Homo sapiens: one gene and its partner. The protein of the gene in region 2 purifies or fractionates together with the protein of the main gene of each other region. This does not show direct contact. Each region holds a gene or a part of one and is shown on either strand. Other genes may lie near its edges.

The links. Proteins that work in one complex are often made in the same cells at the same time.
Region 1: the proteins of ZC3H3 (region 2) and PPAN-P2RY11 purify together in Homo sapiens (affinity purification with mass spectrometry, with the first as the bait; 3 studies listed by BioGRID). This does not show direct contact.

Annotation. Positions count from the first base shown.
Region 1 is NC_000019.10:10,101,953-10,109,361, reverse strand, and holds the start of PPAN-P2RY11 (PPAN-P2RY11 protein), read right to left. Parts: upstream 3,001-7,409; 5' UTR 2,968-3,000; coding exon 2,950-2,967; exon of another isoform or gene 2,862-2,949; coding exon 2,691-2,861; intron 1,858-2,690; coding exon 1,756-1,857; intron 1,712-1,755; exon of another isoform or gene 1,627-1,711; intron 1,559-1,626; coding exon 1,508-1,558; intron 1,399-1,507; coding exon 1,228-1,398; intron 1-1,227. Other genes in the region: PPAN (suppressor of SWI4 1 homolog), read right to left, coding at 1,228-1,398, 1,508-1,558, 1,756-1,857, 2,691-2,861, 2,950-2,967; ANGPTL6 (angiopoietin-related protein 6), read left to right, coding at 6,270-6,355, 6,706-6,810. UniProt on the Homo sapiens protein: May have a role in cell growth.
Region 2 is NC_000008.11:143,461,384-143,468,469, reverse strand, and holds part of ZC3H3 (zinc finger CCCH domain-containing protein 3), read left to right. Parts: coding exon 1-88; intron 89-191; coding exon 192-261; intron 262-2,621; coding exon 2,622-2,753; intron 2,754-7,086. UniProt on the Homo sapiens protein: Required for the export of polyadenylated mRNAs from the nucleus. Enhances ACVR1B-induced SMAD-dependent transcription. Binds to single-stranded DNA but not to double-stranded DNA in vitro. Involved in RNA cleavage.

The DNA of each region.
Region 1 (7,409 bases), on a different chromosome or scaffold from region 2:
TGTAGTCTCAGCTACTCGGGAAGCGGAGGCTGCAGGATTGCTTGTGCCCAGGAGTTCAAGACCAACGTACGGAGACCCCGTCTCTTAAAAAAAAAGTAAAGAAGGCCGGGCACGGTGGCTCACGCCTGTAATCCCAGCACTTTGGGAGGCCGAGGCGGGCAGCTCACGAGGTCAGATCAAGACCACCCTGGCTAACACGGTGAAATCCTGTCTCTACTAAAAATACAAAAAATTAGCCGGGGTGTGGTGGCGGGCACCTGTAGTCCCAGCTACTCGGGAGGCTGAGGCAGGAGAATGGCGTGAACCTGGGAGGCGGAGCTTGCAATGAGATGAGATTGTGCCACCGCACTCCAGCCTGGGAGACAGAGCAAGACTCCGTCTCAAAAAAAAAAAAAAAAGGTAAACAAGAAATTCTGGTCCCAGAGCCGTATTAGCCTCCCTGATGACTGATATCTTATATATAATTTATAAGTCCCATCTGAGAGTCACTAGTGACAAGGATTAGGAGCTAGGACTCAGGAGCCAGATGAAATTAAAAATCCAGTCCTGCCCCCTGGAATCTAAACTTAGCATCTCTGCCAGCCTCAGATTTGCTTTTTTTTTTTTTTTTGAGACAGTGTCTCGCTTTGTCACCCAGGATGGAGTAGAGTGGCGTGAACACAACTCACTGCAGCCTTGACCTCCTGGGCTCAGGTGATCCTCCCACCTCAGCCTCCCCAGTAGCTGGTACTACAGGCATGCACCGCCACACCGGGCTTTTTAAAAATCTACTTTTTGTAGACATGGGGTCTCGCTATGTTGCACAGGCTGATCTCAAAGTCTTGGCTTCAAGCGATCCTCCCACCTCGCCCTCCCAAAGTACTGGGATTACAGGCCGAAGCCATAGCACTGGGCCCGCAGCTTCCCTCTGTAAAACAGGGCCCTAAGAAGAGATGCTACGATCCTGCTCAGCCCAGCACTCAACACACGTGGGAAACAGAGCTCCATCAGTATTTCTTTCCACCGGCTGGAAAAGGTGCAGCTCACGGGGTGTGGACCGCTGGGGGAATCTCTGGACACTTTTGCCCAGCATCATCAGACACAGGAGTGGGATTTGACCTCAGGACTCAGCAGACCCAGGAGCTCCCAGTCTCAGCGCTGGGAGGAGTGAGCAATCCATCTGAGGGCCTGTGGCACCTCTATCCGCTGCACCCCCCCATACCTGCCACCTCGCCAGGCCAGACCCACCTTGTGCACGTTGATGGAGGGGAACAGGTTCTGGAACATGGTGGCCATGAGCTTCACATGCATACCATGGGGGCCAAAGCTGTTGAGTACCAGGAGGGGTGGGTGGGCAAACTGCTGCTCGTGCATGCGGTGCCGGCGCAGTGAGGAGACCACATCACGCACCAGCGAGTACTGTAGGACAGGAGAGAGGAGGGGGTGACCACCAACCACACATGGCTGCGGACAACCCCAAGTCCAGCTCCCACCCCACATGGCTTTGTACCACCTCCACCCCTCTCACCTTCTTGACCTGGAAGGTCAAGGTGGGGCCTCCTGGGAGGCGCATCAGCTTCTGCAGGAGAAGAAAAGATCAGTGACTCTGGAGGGGTCTAGCAGAGGTGCCCGGAGTAGGCACCTTTGCCCCATCTCTTCTTCAGAGCGTTTACTTTGAAGCCAGAAATCACAGCAGCTCAGAGGCATATGTGTTCATCATGAGAGATAGGGGAAGGGGGGGTCTGGGGGAGATGAAGGGTGAGGGCGTCTACTCACAAAGTAGACATTGGTCTCTGTTTTGCTCAGGATCAGAAAGTGTGTGACCCCGAGGGGCCCAGCCACTGCCACGCAGTCCTTCAGCGAGTTCTTCTTACGAACCTGGAAATGACAAAAAGAAAAAAAGAAAACATAGCTTATCCCTTGTTGTGACAACTATAAGCTGACGGTGCAGATCCTGTTATGGTCTGTCTTGCATCTGACCCTTTCAACAAGCCCAGAGGAGCAAAAGGATCTTAGCCTTTAGAGTCAGTCGGACGCAGATTTGAGTTCTAACTCTGTCTCTTGCTCACAGCGCATCTTCCCATTGACAAATGAGCGAACTCAGGCCCAGAGAGGTTAAGTAACTTGCATCAGATACTGGGGAGAAGTCAGTTTCCAACCCTGCTTTGCTGCCTCCAGATTCTAGTCTTTTTTTTTCTAACACGGTCTCCTCCGGTCGCCCAGACTGGAGTGAAGTGGCACGATCCCGATTCACTACAGCCTTAATTTCCTGGGCTCAAGGAATCCTCCCACCTCAGCCTCCCGAGTAGCCGGGACTACAGGCACGCAACACCATATCCGACTAATTTTTCTATTTTTTGTAAAGACGGGGTTTCACCATGCTGCTCAGGCTGGTCTCGAATTCCTGGGCTCAAGTGATCCTCCCGCATCAGCATCCCCAAATGCTGGGAATACAGGCATGAGCCACCACGCCCGGCTCCAGATTCCAGTCTTAACTGTCAGGCTTAGGCGACTATCTATCTCCCAAGCTGCGCGCCCTCACTCCAGCCCAGCAAAAGCCCTGAAAGGCAGAAATGATGCTCCCCATGAGGGTCTTTTTTTCCAGCTGGGGAGACTTAAGTCCTCCCACAGTTTTACAGCGGGAGCCATTACTGCAGCTACGAAGACTAGGCCGAGGGTGGGTGGAGGCGGGCTGGGGGTGGGGTACAAACCTGCAGACGGCTGGCAGTGAGCGGCTCCATGACCCGCCGCACGTCCAGGCTGAGCTGCCGGATGTTGCGACCCGTGCAGCCTCGCGTGAACACGAACGAGTGCGGGTTCGCGGCATAGGCCTCGAGGTTGCGGAGCTGCGCCTGGGCGCGGGCGCGCTTCTGGTGCCGGGACTGCGGCGACGAGAGACAAAGGGTCAGCGCCGCGACCTCGGCCGGGACCCCACCTGCGCCACCTGCCTCCCAAGCTGCCGGGCCTTACCCTCCCTGACTGTCCCATGCTGCTGTGTCCTCCACGAGGCCTCCTGCGTCCGCCGCTTCCGGCGCTGCGCAGCTCACTTCCGGCGCCTGAGAGCCGGCACGGCGTGGGACGACATCAGGCGGGCCTGCGCACTAGGTGGCCTCTGGGAGCGGGGAGGGGCAATCAGATGGAGCGGTTGCTATGGAGACACGGGTGCCTGTTTCTAGGGAGACCGGGGCGGGGCTACGCGGCTCCGGGCTGCAGAGAAACGAATCCGCCGGTTCGAATCCCGCTTCGGCCCATTTCCTCCAGCTGGGCTAAAACCACTTTCTGCATTCCGAGGCTCCTAAAATATCCCAAAGTAAGGCTGATAATGTCCCCCGGGCCCACGAATTAGGAGCGACCATGTATGCACAATGTTGGGCGCTCTGGCGCCAAGTACTTGGGGAGAAGCCACCGGAGGGAATGACTGTGGCAATCATTCACTTTAGTCTCGCAACTCCTCTGGGCCAGCTGTCCTCCCCGGGTACCCCTGTCTGCAGACAGGCTGAGGGATGGAAACTCCACATCACCTTCTGGAAACTCAGGGCAAGGCGGGCGTTTCGTGAATAACTCGCCCCCTCCTTCTTTCCGCTCAAAGCCTCAGTCTTGGCCTCAGGCCTCTGGCTTCTTCCCCAAAACCTTGCAGTGGGGGAAAGGGACACCCCCTCACTGGGCTGAACATTACTCTCTCCTCCCCCATCGGCCTCCTCTCCCTCCTTGCTCTCTCTGGCACCCCAATTCTTCCTCCTCTCCCCCAGATGTGTCTCCCCTCCCCCTCGTCTTCCCCCTGTCTCTTTCTCCCTCTTGTAACTTTGTCTCTGTCATCAGTTGTCTCTTTCATCATTTATAACTGAAGATGGAAACTAAAGAAGTTTCCTTTCTCTGTGTCTGGCCCCATCCCTGTTTCTTTCTTCTCATCTGCCTCCCTGTGGTCTCTCCCCATCTTCCCATCTCTCTCTGTCTCTCCCCATCTCCCCGTCTCTCCCTTTCTCTGCCATCTCCCTATGTCTCTCCCATCTCCCTATGCCTCTCCCATCTCCATCTGTCTGACTCTCTGTATTCTTCAGCCCCTCTCTGTGACTTATGAAGTTCCCTCCCTCTCTACTGCCAATGGGGAAGCCAGAGGGGGCTGAGGGTGGGGGGCCGAGGGGCCCAGTGTGGGGGCCCCAACCCAGGCCCAGAGCCCAGCCTGGCAGCCTCTCTCAGATCTGGGACGACCATTTCCTTTTTCAACCCTGGAGTCCACTCGAGTTACTCGGGAGCTCAGGATGGTGCAGACCAGGGGAAGGAGGTGACTCTCCCGGCGTGTGGCTGGTCGTCGGTGGGGCCTTTGGACAGGTCTCAGACCCTGGGCCTGGGCTCTGTGGGGCTCTATGTGAGTTTCTTTGTACCCCTGGGAAATGACTGCATGGTTACTTCCCCCAGTTCCGTCCTCGTGTGATTTGACTTGTGTGAAAATGTGACCGAGTGTGTGGGAGACAGACGGTGACCTCTGTGGTGCGGTGGATAGGTTTCCGGGTGTCAACTGTGTGTACCTGTTTTGTATCTGTGCACTACTGTGTGATCACAAGAACCAGGATGTGGACAAGCCTGACACACAGATAAAGACCCACTCAGCCCACCCCATTTCCCTTTAAGTTGTGATGTGTGTGTGACCATATTTGGAACATACAGTTGTTGCCTGAAACTGTTATGTTTCCAGCTGTGTCTTTTTAAAAATTTTTTTTAATCAATGAGATATCCTTTATTTATGAAAGCATAGTTCCAATGCAGAAGTCAAGCTTTATGGTTATATATTAGGATAGGTTCAGATCCAATATGACAATGTTTAGCACTAACTTTAACATGTTAAAGCTCTGATTCCTGAATGTTTTTCTCACTTAATATATTCTCTCCAATGACAAGCTGGTGTGCTTGGCTTCTTATGCTGAAAAATATATGCCTGAATTCTATAACAAGCTATTAACAAAATCATGAATAGTTAATTAAATAAGTGCCAACACTACATGGAACTTACTGGCCACCAACTCAGAACCATAAAACTACACACACACACACACACACACACACACACCACACACACAAACAAAACAAAAAAAACACCAAAGAAAGATAGCTATCACTGTACATATGAATACTGTCCAGGATATCAGATCAATTATCAAATCCAAGGTCTCTGGTGTTTTGTCTCACAGTGTTGAATATATGAATGCTTCTCTATTATACTGACTTGTATTATTTTCAACAAATAATTATGTGGACTCAAAATCTTACATTTTTATTTCTTTTCTTTTTTTTTTTTTTTTTTTTGAGACAGAGTCTTACTCTGTCGCCCAGGCTGGAGTGCAGTGGCTCACTGCAACCTCCGCCCCCCGGGTTCAAGCGATTCTCCTGCCTCAGCCTCCTGAGTAGCTGGGATTACAGGCATGGGCCACCACACCCGGCAAATTTTTGTATTTTTAGTAGAGACGGGGTTTCACCATCTTGGCCAGGCTGGTCTCGAATTGCTGACCTCGTGATCTGCCCACCTTGGCCTCCCAAAGTGCTGGGATTACAGGCGTGAGCCACCGCGCCCAGCCTTACATTTTTATTTCTAATTATAAAATCCAGATTAATCCAAAAAACATAAATCACATGTAACTGAGGTAGGGTTTTCACTTTAAGAATATATTGTTTCTATCACAATTTAAAAATTTACAGCTGTGTCTTTTATATTTATTTTTTATTTTAATTAATTAATTCCTCACTTTATTATTATTTATTTATTATTTATTTATTTATTTATTTATTTATTTTTGAGATGGAATTTCAGTCTTGTCGCCCAGGCTGGAGTGCATGCGGTTGCTCGATCTCGGCTTACTGCAACCTCCACCTCCTGGCTTCAAGCAATTCTCCTGCCTCAGCCTCCCGCGTAGCTGGGATTACTGGCGCATGCCACCATGCCCAGCTAATTTTTGTATTGTTAGTAGAGACGGGGTTTTAGCATGTTGGCAAGGATGGTTTCGAACTCCTGACCTCAGGTAATCCACCTGCCCCGGCCTCCCAAAGTGCTGGCTTTCAGGCATGAGCCACTGCACCCAGACTTTCGCTGGGTGTTAATGTGTGCGTGCGTGCAAATGTGTGTGTGTGTGTTTGTGTCCACTCTGTTATGTGCCCATATGTGTGTGACAGCTGTGGTGTACATGTGTGAGTTTCTGAGTCAAGCTACCTTGGCTGGCTCCCATCCTGGTCTCTTTTTGGCTGTGTGACCGCAGGCAAGTTGCTTACCCTCTCTGAGCCTCAGTTTTCCCTGCTGTAAAATGAGGGTACATACAGAATCCAGCTCAGGTTGTAAGGATCAAATACGTAAAAGGTGTGGAGAGTTTAGAGCCAAGCCCTACACACGGTAAGTCCCCAGTGATGTTCCTCTTTCTATGTGTGGTGTGTGCGTGTCTGGGGCTGGGATCACGCCTGGCTGCCCCAGGGCCTGCAGCCTCCCACGCTCTGGGCTCTGCAGTGGAGGGTGTGGGGGAAAGGGAGGGATGTCCAGGACACTGACCTGTGTTATCAGGCTCTGGTGGCCTGGGCAGGGGGGTCTGGCAATTCTGTCTCATTTCTCATTCGGGAAATGCTAAATATTTATAGTTTGGGCTCCTGGGCCCAGCATCCCAGCTCCACTCCCAGGCTCTGGGGGCTGGGGAGTGGTTACCAAGCCTCCTCTCTCCTTCTGTCCCACTGCCCTCTCCCCGTCTCTAGCTCAGAGGCCCCACTGGACCCTCGGCTCTTCCTTGGACTTCTTGTGTGTTCTGTGAGCTTCGCTGGATTCAGGGTCTTGGGCATCAGAGGTGAGAGGGTGGGAAGGTAGGTGGAGGTTGATTCTCACTGTGGGGAAACTCCGACCACAGCTTGGCTTGGGGGCCCCCAGGCCACCCCGCCACCCCAGGCTGAGAGTGTAAAAGGCAGCGGGTGTTATACACACGTCCCAGTTCTGGGGGGTTGCTCAATCTCTGTTGTGGGGGGTGGGGCATGTCAGTGATCGGGGACAAAGAGAGGACCCTACCCCCGGATCCTTGTGAGCCCCTGCTTGGTGTCTGAGTCCAGAAGTAAATGTGGCCATCTCCAGCCCAGAACCCTCCATGGCTCCTGCCTGACTCAGAGTAAAACCCAAGTCCTCCTCCGGGCCCACAGGACCCTTCACACTTTGCCCTGACACTTCTTACCTCCTCCTGCTTCCCCCTTCTCTCTTCCGGCCTCATAGACATTTCTGCCATTTCTTTTTTTTTTTTTTTTTTTTTTTGAGACAGAGTCTCGCTCTGTCACCCAGGCTGGAGTGCAGTGGCGCGATCTCAGCTCACTGCAAGCTCCGCCTTCCGGGTTCACGCCATTCTCCTGCCTCAGTCTCTGGAGTGGCTGGGGCTACAGGCGCTCGCCACCATGCCCGGCTAATTTTTTTTTTTTTT
Region 2 (7,086 bases):
GCATGTACTACAACCGCTTCGGCAGGTGCAACCGTGGCGAGCGCTGCCCCTACATCCACGATCCCGAGAAGGTGGCCGTGTGCACCAGGTGCCCTCCTGCCCTCGCTGTGGGCCTGGGGGAGGTTCTGTGCAGGGCCCTGCCCTTGGTCCCTGCCGGCCCTTCCTCATACCCGTTTCTCCTGGTGCTGCAGGTTTGTCCGGGGCACCTGCAAGAAAACGGATGGGACCTGCCCCTTCTCCCACCATGTGTCCAAGGAGAAGGTGAGTGCGGCGCTGGTGGCCCTGCTCCCGTGCACCTTTCTCCGGGGCCTCAGCCACCTGGCCTCCGGGCAGATGGTGCCCACAGCTTTCTCTGGGTTTGGGACATGCAGATCCCTGCCCTGGCGTCCTTAGAGTCTGCTGTACCGTCTCTACCCCATTGCAGGCTTTGCAGCTGGGCTTCCTCTTCCCCGGAAAGCAGCGCTGATAGGGTCTCTGCTCACCACGCACAGGGGTCTCTTTTCCCTTCTCCTGGCAGCACCAGGCCTCACCAGATCCCCAGGCCCCCCTTACACATGCCTAGGGGAAGGTGGTCCCACAGGTGCCCCTGTGGACCCAGGGCTGAGGCCTCAGGGCCTCTTCAGACTGGGGTTGGCAGGAGGGGGGAAGCTGTATGTGAGGGGGCTGGGTGGAGAGGCTGCCTGGGCAGAGGGCGGGAGGGAGGGGCTGGAGGGAGAACAGCTGGACTCCTGGCTCATGTGGTTGTCCCCGCGGCCTGAAACCCAACAGACTTGCTTTGAGCCAAGGTGGGTCCCCTGCTGGGAAGCAGCAAGAGAGCCCTGGGGCTGGGGGGGACATGTGTAGCTCCTGTGCCCCGGACTCAGCCACGGTGTGACCACAGCATGCGAGTGGAGTGAGGGCTGCCTTGGGTGAGGGAGGCGGTGTTGGGCAGGGGTGCTGCTGCCGCAACAGCTTTTCCCCTTGAGGAACTTGAAAAGAATCAGCATTTTTCTCCCTAATAGAGCTTCGGAACTCTGTTGTGAGCAATTTGGAAATTCACATCGAGTTTCGGGTTCATTAGCTCCCAGCTCCAAAGCCAGAGCACATTCCAAGCTGTCTAATGTGGACGCCCCGCACCAGTGCCCTGAATTAATGTTATTGTTATTTGTGTGGACGTGGCGGGGTGCAAACAAGGTTAATTGAAATGAGAATGCAGTTTCCTCTTGATAACAGCCCCGCTCTGACAGCCAAGAGGAGCTCCGTTTGCTGTAGAGTTGGCTTTATCATCCCTTTTTATTAGAGCTAATTTGGGCTCTATATCAAAAACCACATTAAGGGAATTGTCTACAGCCCACCACCGCCAGCCCCAAACGGCCCCCAGCCCCTCTCCCCTCTGCGGCTGCAGTTAAAAGACAATTAGAAATAAACTCCCGCTCGTTAAATCACCCTTTGTTTCTTTGCCTTCTCCCTCCCTCCCTCTCAGCCCTGGCCGCTGGCTCTCTGGACCCCTTCTTCCCTCCTTGGCCTTAGACAAGTTCCTTTCCCATCCCCAACCTTGCCCCAGAAAAGTGACTTTTTAAAGCCTCTGGGTCTGCCCAGATCCCCCAGGGCTCCTCAGGCCCCAGCAGCTCTGAGCAGGCTGGGAAGGGGAGGGGGACAAGGGTAGTGGGAGCAGGGAGGGTGGTCTGACCCAGGAGGGAGGAAGGCCCTGGGAGGGGAGCGGGAATAGCCTGGGGCAAGACTGGAGACCCTGGGGTGCTGGCAGGGGCTCTGTGGGGGCTCCATGCTGAGGCTGGACGGTGACATCCTTGTTCTGGACACCCAGGCAGCCCAGGAAGAGCCCGTGGTGGCCCATGAGGGGCAGGGAGATGTCTCCTGGAGATGGCAAGAGACCCCCTGCTTCCCTCCCTGGGTGGCCCTAGCCCAGCCATTGCTCCTTAGGCCTGAGGTTCCCCCAAATGGGAGGAAAGTTACATTTTTTCCCTCTCCCAGCCCAGTGGTGATAACAAGCACTGACTGTGGCCAGCGGCCCTGTGCTGGGGAGGAAGACGCTGCTGGACCCTTCCTGCTGACAGCCTTGGCCTCCACGGTGCTGGCCTGCAGCCAGTGCCACACCAGCCCTGCTTCCAGGTGGCTCCTGCCCACCTAGAGCCCAGGGACACTGCCTGTGGCCCACGGGTCAGGTGCCTGGAGAGGGAGAGCCCTCTGTTGGCTGCTGGCCCGTGGCTCGTCCTCCCACCTAGACACTGGTCCCCATGGCCTGAGAGGCTCCAAGGGCAGCCCTGGCCACAGGCTAGTGGTTGGGAGCCCTGGCTGCCATCTTGCCCTGGACGGTGGGCAGGCTCAGAACAGGTGAGGGACTCAGAGGAGGGCGCCCCTGAGGCTGAGCCACAGGGCTACAGGGCTGCTCCATGCCTCCTCTGGACAGAGCACGGCAGGGGTGTGGCTCACCTGGGGAGGCTGGGGCCCACTTCTGAGCAGCAGCTTCCCTGCCCCGCAGGTCGTGGTGGCTGCCCTTCCTGCCTGCTGGTGCCGCGTGTCCATTTCTCTCTCGGGCGGGGCCGTAGGAGGGTCCCCAGCCACCGTCTCTGGGCCCTGGAGGGTGGCTGCCTGCTGGCCCTCACTGCCGGCCCTCCCTGCAGATGCCGGTGTGCTCCTACTTCCTGAAGGGCATCTGCAGCAACAGCAACTGTCCCTATAGCCACGTGTACGTGTCCCGCAAGGCCGAGGTCTGCAGCGACTTCCTCAAAGGCTACTGCCCCCTGGGTGCAAAGGTGAGTGGTCTGTGGGGGCCCGAGTGGGCGGGGTTCCTGTGGCTTGTTGGTCCTCTGCTCACTCCTGGGTACCTGCCGTGGTGGCTGGATGACCCATCTGCAGCCCTGAGGTGGTCAGTGCCATCACGTCCACCTCACAGGTGACTCAGAGAGGTCCAGCAACTTTCCCGGGGTTGCACAGCACCAACACAGGGCGGGGTTTGAACCATGGGAAGGTGAGGCGCAGAGGACCTAGACTTCCAGGTGCAGCACTGGTAGCCCCAGGAGCTGGCCCCCCATGGTAGGGGTGTGGTGACTGGGCCGGAGCAGCTCCTGGGATGTTGCTGGGGGCGGCAGTGCAGTGAAGGGGATATTGGAGGCCAGGGAGCCCGCAGGGCTGCAGGATGTGGGGCCAGCAGCCTCCCCAGGAAGGCAGGGGGTGGACGGGACACTCCCACCCAGCCTGGGGCAGAGGGGTGGGCCAGGCAGAGCCAAGGGGGCCGCCTGAGCCGTGGCTGGCAAGGGTGGAGTGAGCTGGCGCTGGAGCTCATTGCGGGGCACCACTGCTGGGTGGAGAATTGGGGACCTGGGCTGTAGCTGATGGCTGCGGCTCCCCTCTTCCTAGGGGCATGACTGACTCCTGTGTTGCAGAGGCACTCACAGGCTCACCTGTCTGGGAAGTTCCCGGCAGTGCAGCCAGCTCCTCCCCTCTGCCTCACCTGCCCTCCTGGGCTTCAGCAGGACTCCCCGCCACAAGCAGCGTGGCCTCAGCATCTCCAGTGGGCCTGGTCCCGGGTACAAGCCCCCTCTACCCCAGCCTCTCACGCCTGTTTCTCTCCCCGCCCTGGGGGCTCCTGCACCTGGCCTAAGGCTTGTGGCTGAGGCTGGGGGCCTCCTGGCTCAGGCTGGGGAGGGGCCAGAGCTGGGGGACCTGGAGATGCTCCTTGTCCCTGGCATCTTGGGAGGGAGCCCCGGGGCCTGCAGCACGGCTCACTGCCACCTGGACCTCACACTTGTGTTGGCGCTGCCTCAGGGTCTGCAGCCCCCGTGAAGCCGAGAACACCAGGCACCCCAGGAACCCTTTCTCAGCCCACCCGCAAGGACACCGGGCCCGAAGCTCTGGCGGCTCTCCTGCCCCTCCCTTGCTGGGTTCACCTGTGGGGTCCTGTAGAAGCTGGGCCACGCACTCCTTCCTGTGCACAGCGTTCTGTGGTGGGCCGGGCCCTTCCCAAGCATCCTCTCCCTCATCCTCAGTCCTCACACCCACTTCCCAGGAGGAGTCAGCCTGCAGCCCCTGCTGCCGGGCCAAGGGTTGGCCAGGCCGGGCTCCCCAACCTGAAACCTGGCAGGCAATCCCCTCCGGGGAGGTAGGGCCTGGCTGGGGCAGCCCCAGACCCTGTGGGGGCAGTGGCAGGATCCCCATGGAGGCCATGGCTGATTATTGTAAAATGTTTCGATTTAAATGAAAATATCAAAGTGATATTTAGGTCCTGCTTCTATTAGTGGAAGTGCTTACTGCTGCCTTTCCGTGTGTCCGCGCCGCGGCGCCCGCATGATGGATAGCAGCTTGTAATTATATATGGGAAAGCGCTGAGCCGGCCAGATCCAGCGGGGACAGGCGGCAGCCCGGGCCTGCGAGGGTTAATTTTATTCTCTAAATAATGTGAAAAGTGCTGAATCGTCACCTTGCGCCTGAAGTAGAAGTCCTCAAATGGGCCCCAGAGAGTTTATAATATTCCACTGAATCAAGTGAAATTGTTAACCTTGCTTCATAAAGCGATGGCTTGTTAAAGAGCCACATTCCCTTTCCTTGTGAATAATTTAGGCTGGGAGTAAATCTCCGCTCCTTCCCCTTTTGGGGGGCCACGGCTGTGGCTCAGGGGTCAACCTCTGCCAGATGCCGCCTGCCCTCCTAGATATCAGGACGGGGATGACTTCAGACTGCCTGTTTGTACACACCTGCGGGGTCTGCCACGTCCTGCCCAGACCCGGAGACGCAGAGTCCTCCCCAGTAGGCGTCCCTGTCCTGGTGCAGCGCTGTTTTCCTCCCTTGCCTCAGGCGCTCGCTCCATCCTTGTCAAAGGGATCTCCCCGGCTGATACGTCTTGCTGGGGGGAGACTCTGAGACTAGAAAACTCCACCTTCTCCCCTTAGTCTTAATAGCCAGCTGTGTCTGTCTGCTGTCAAATTCTGATCCGCGGCCGGCGTCCTTGAACGGAAGAGTTTTCCCTCCTCCGTGCTCACCGCTCGCCTGTTTGTCCACGGGTGTGTCCGGCTGTGTCCATTGCCGTCCCCTTTTAATATGCTGCCCTGCCAGGGCTCCTGCCCTTATGATGTGCCTGACAGTTTCTGCACCCTTGCTTGCTTTCTGGCACCCAGATGCTCCCAGCACCCGGCGGCTCTGGGACAGCCGCTCCTGGCTCCTTATGGGTGTGTTTAAGACTCAGGGTCTGGGCCGGGCGCGGTGGCTCACACCTGTAATCCCAACACTTTGGGAGGCCGAGGCAGGTGGATCACCTGAGGTCAGGAGTTCAAAACCAGCTTGGCCAACATGGTGAAACCCCATCTCTACTAAAAATACGAAAAGTTAGCCGGTTGTGGCGGCAAATGCCTGTAATCCCAGCTACTCGGGAGGCTGAGGCAGGAGAATTGCTGGAACCCGGGAGGTGGAGGTTGTGGTGAGCTGAGATTGCGCCACTGCACTCCAGCCTACGTGACAAGAGTGAGACTCTGTCTCAAAAAAAAAAAAAGAGACTCAGGGTCTGGGCGCTGCTCCTGGTGGCTCTAGGTGGGACAGCTGCTCCTGCAGGGCGCCCTGGTTCCTTCTGGGTGTGTTTAGGACTCAGGGTCTGGGCGCTGCGTGTGCTTGTTGCAGCTAGGGTGTTGGCTGCTGCCAGCGCCCCCAGTGCACAGGGCTGGGGAGCATCGTGTGCACGTGTGCAGGGGTGACAGTGACTCCATCCCCACCTCTGCATTGAGAGCTCCTGCACACCTTGGCCCTCCTGCATCTGCAGTGCCTGCTCCGTGAGCCTCCGCGCTGCCGTTTTCCCCACACCCTGTGTGTGGTTGGTGCCTGTCTGCAGGGAGCTGTCGGGAGAGGGAAGGCCCTGGCTGAGCCTTGGGTTTCAGCTCCCCAAGTGCGAGCTGAGACCTGAGTCACCTGGGATTCCCCTCACGCACACCCTGCCTTCATCCTCCAGGCTTGCAAGGGCTCCTGTGTCCTCTGGACAGCGCCTGTCTTGGTTTTGTTCACATACAGCGCTTCTCTGTTGGTGCCTTGCTTTCGCCAGTGCTGCCCTTTGTTAGGCCGAATCCTTCGTCCTTTATGAGGCAAGGTCCTGACATCCTTTGCCCTGTGATTTGTGCTCGGGGTCTTGTTTAGGACCAGTCTCCACCCATGGTCACAGAGTGCCTCCTGCATTGCCTGATGCTGGCTCAAGAGGCAGCTGTGGGTGTCGCTTGTCCCTGCACGGTTACTTCCTCCTCTGGCCTCAGTCTCCTTTTATATACAGTCGGGATAACGGCACTGCCTATCTCAGAGGGTCGTGGCGACTCTTCAGGGGGCCACAGTGGGCCTGGCAGTGTCCTGGGTGGCCCTGGCACAGGGAGGCCTCCCTACAAGTCGGCTGCCGTTTGCTGTTCTTCATTTGCGTGTTGTGTGAGGTGGGGCCTCACTTAGTTTTTCTTCATGTCGTGGGTGCTTTCCCTCAACGGTGATCTAACCCTTTGATCTGTGGTGTCAGCTTTAAAAAAAAAAAAAAAGCAGCTTAACTGAAGTACAGTTTCCCTCCCACACAATTCCTCTGCTCTAGGTGTATGGTTCTGTGGGTTTGAGTAAACTTAGAGTGGTACAGCTGCACCACAGCGCAGCTTTCAGTTGTTTTCATCGCCCCCCAGAATTCCCTCACTCTTTTCATCATCAGTCCCGGCCCCTAACACTCATCCACTTCTGTCTCGGTAAGTTTCTTCTGTGGGCCTTTCGTGTTGCTGGAATCATACAGTACATGGTTGTTTGGCATCTTTGATTTTGCATCATGTTTGGAGGTCTGTCCTGCAGCACCTCAGCGCTGCACCCGTTTTTATTACAGAGTCAAGCCGCTGCAGAGGCTCTCCACACTTTCTTTGTCCGTTCGGGTGGTTGCCAGTTGGGGGCTGTCGTGAATAATACTGCCTCGAATGTCCGCGCTCCAGCCTTTGTGTGGCCGATGCTTTTGCTTCTCTTGGGTAGACACCTAGGAGTGGAATTGCAGGGCCATAGGGTCACTGCAGGGCTACAGGGTCACTCTAGGTTAACAGCCTCCTGTTTTCTAAAACGGCTTCACTGTTTGACACTCCTGCCGGCAGCGAGCAAGGC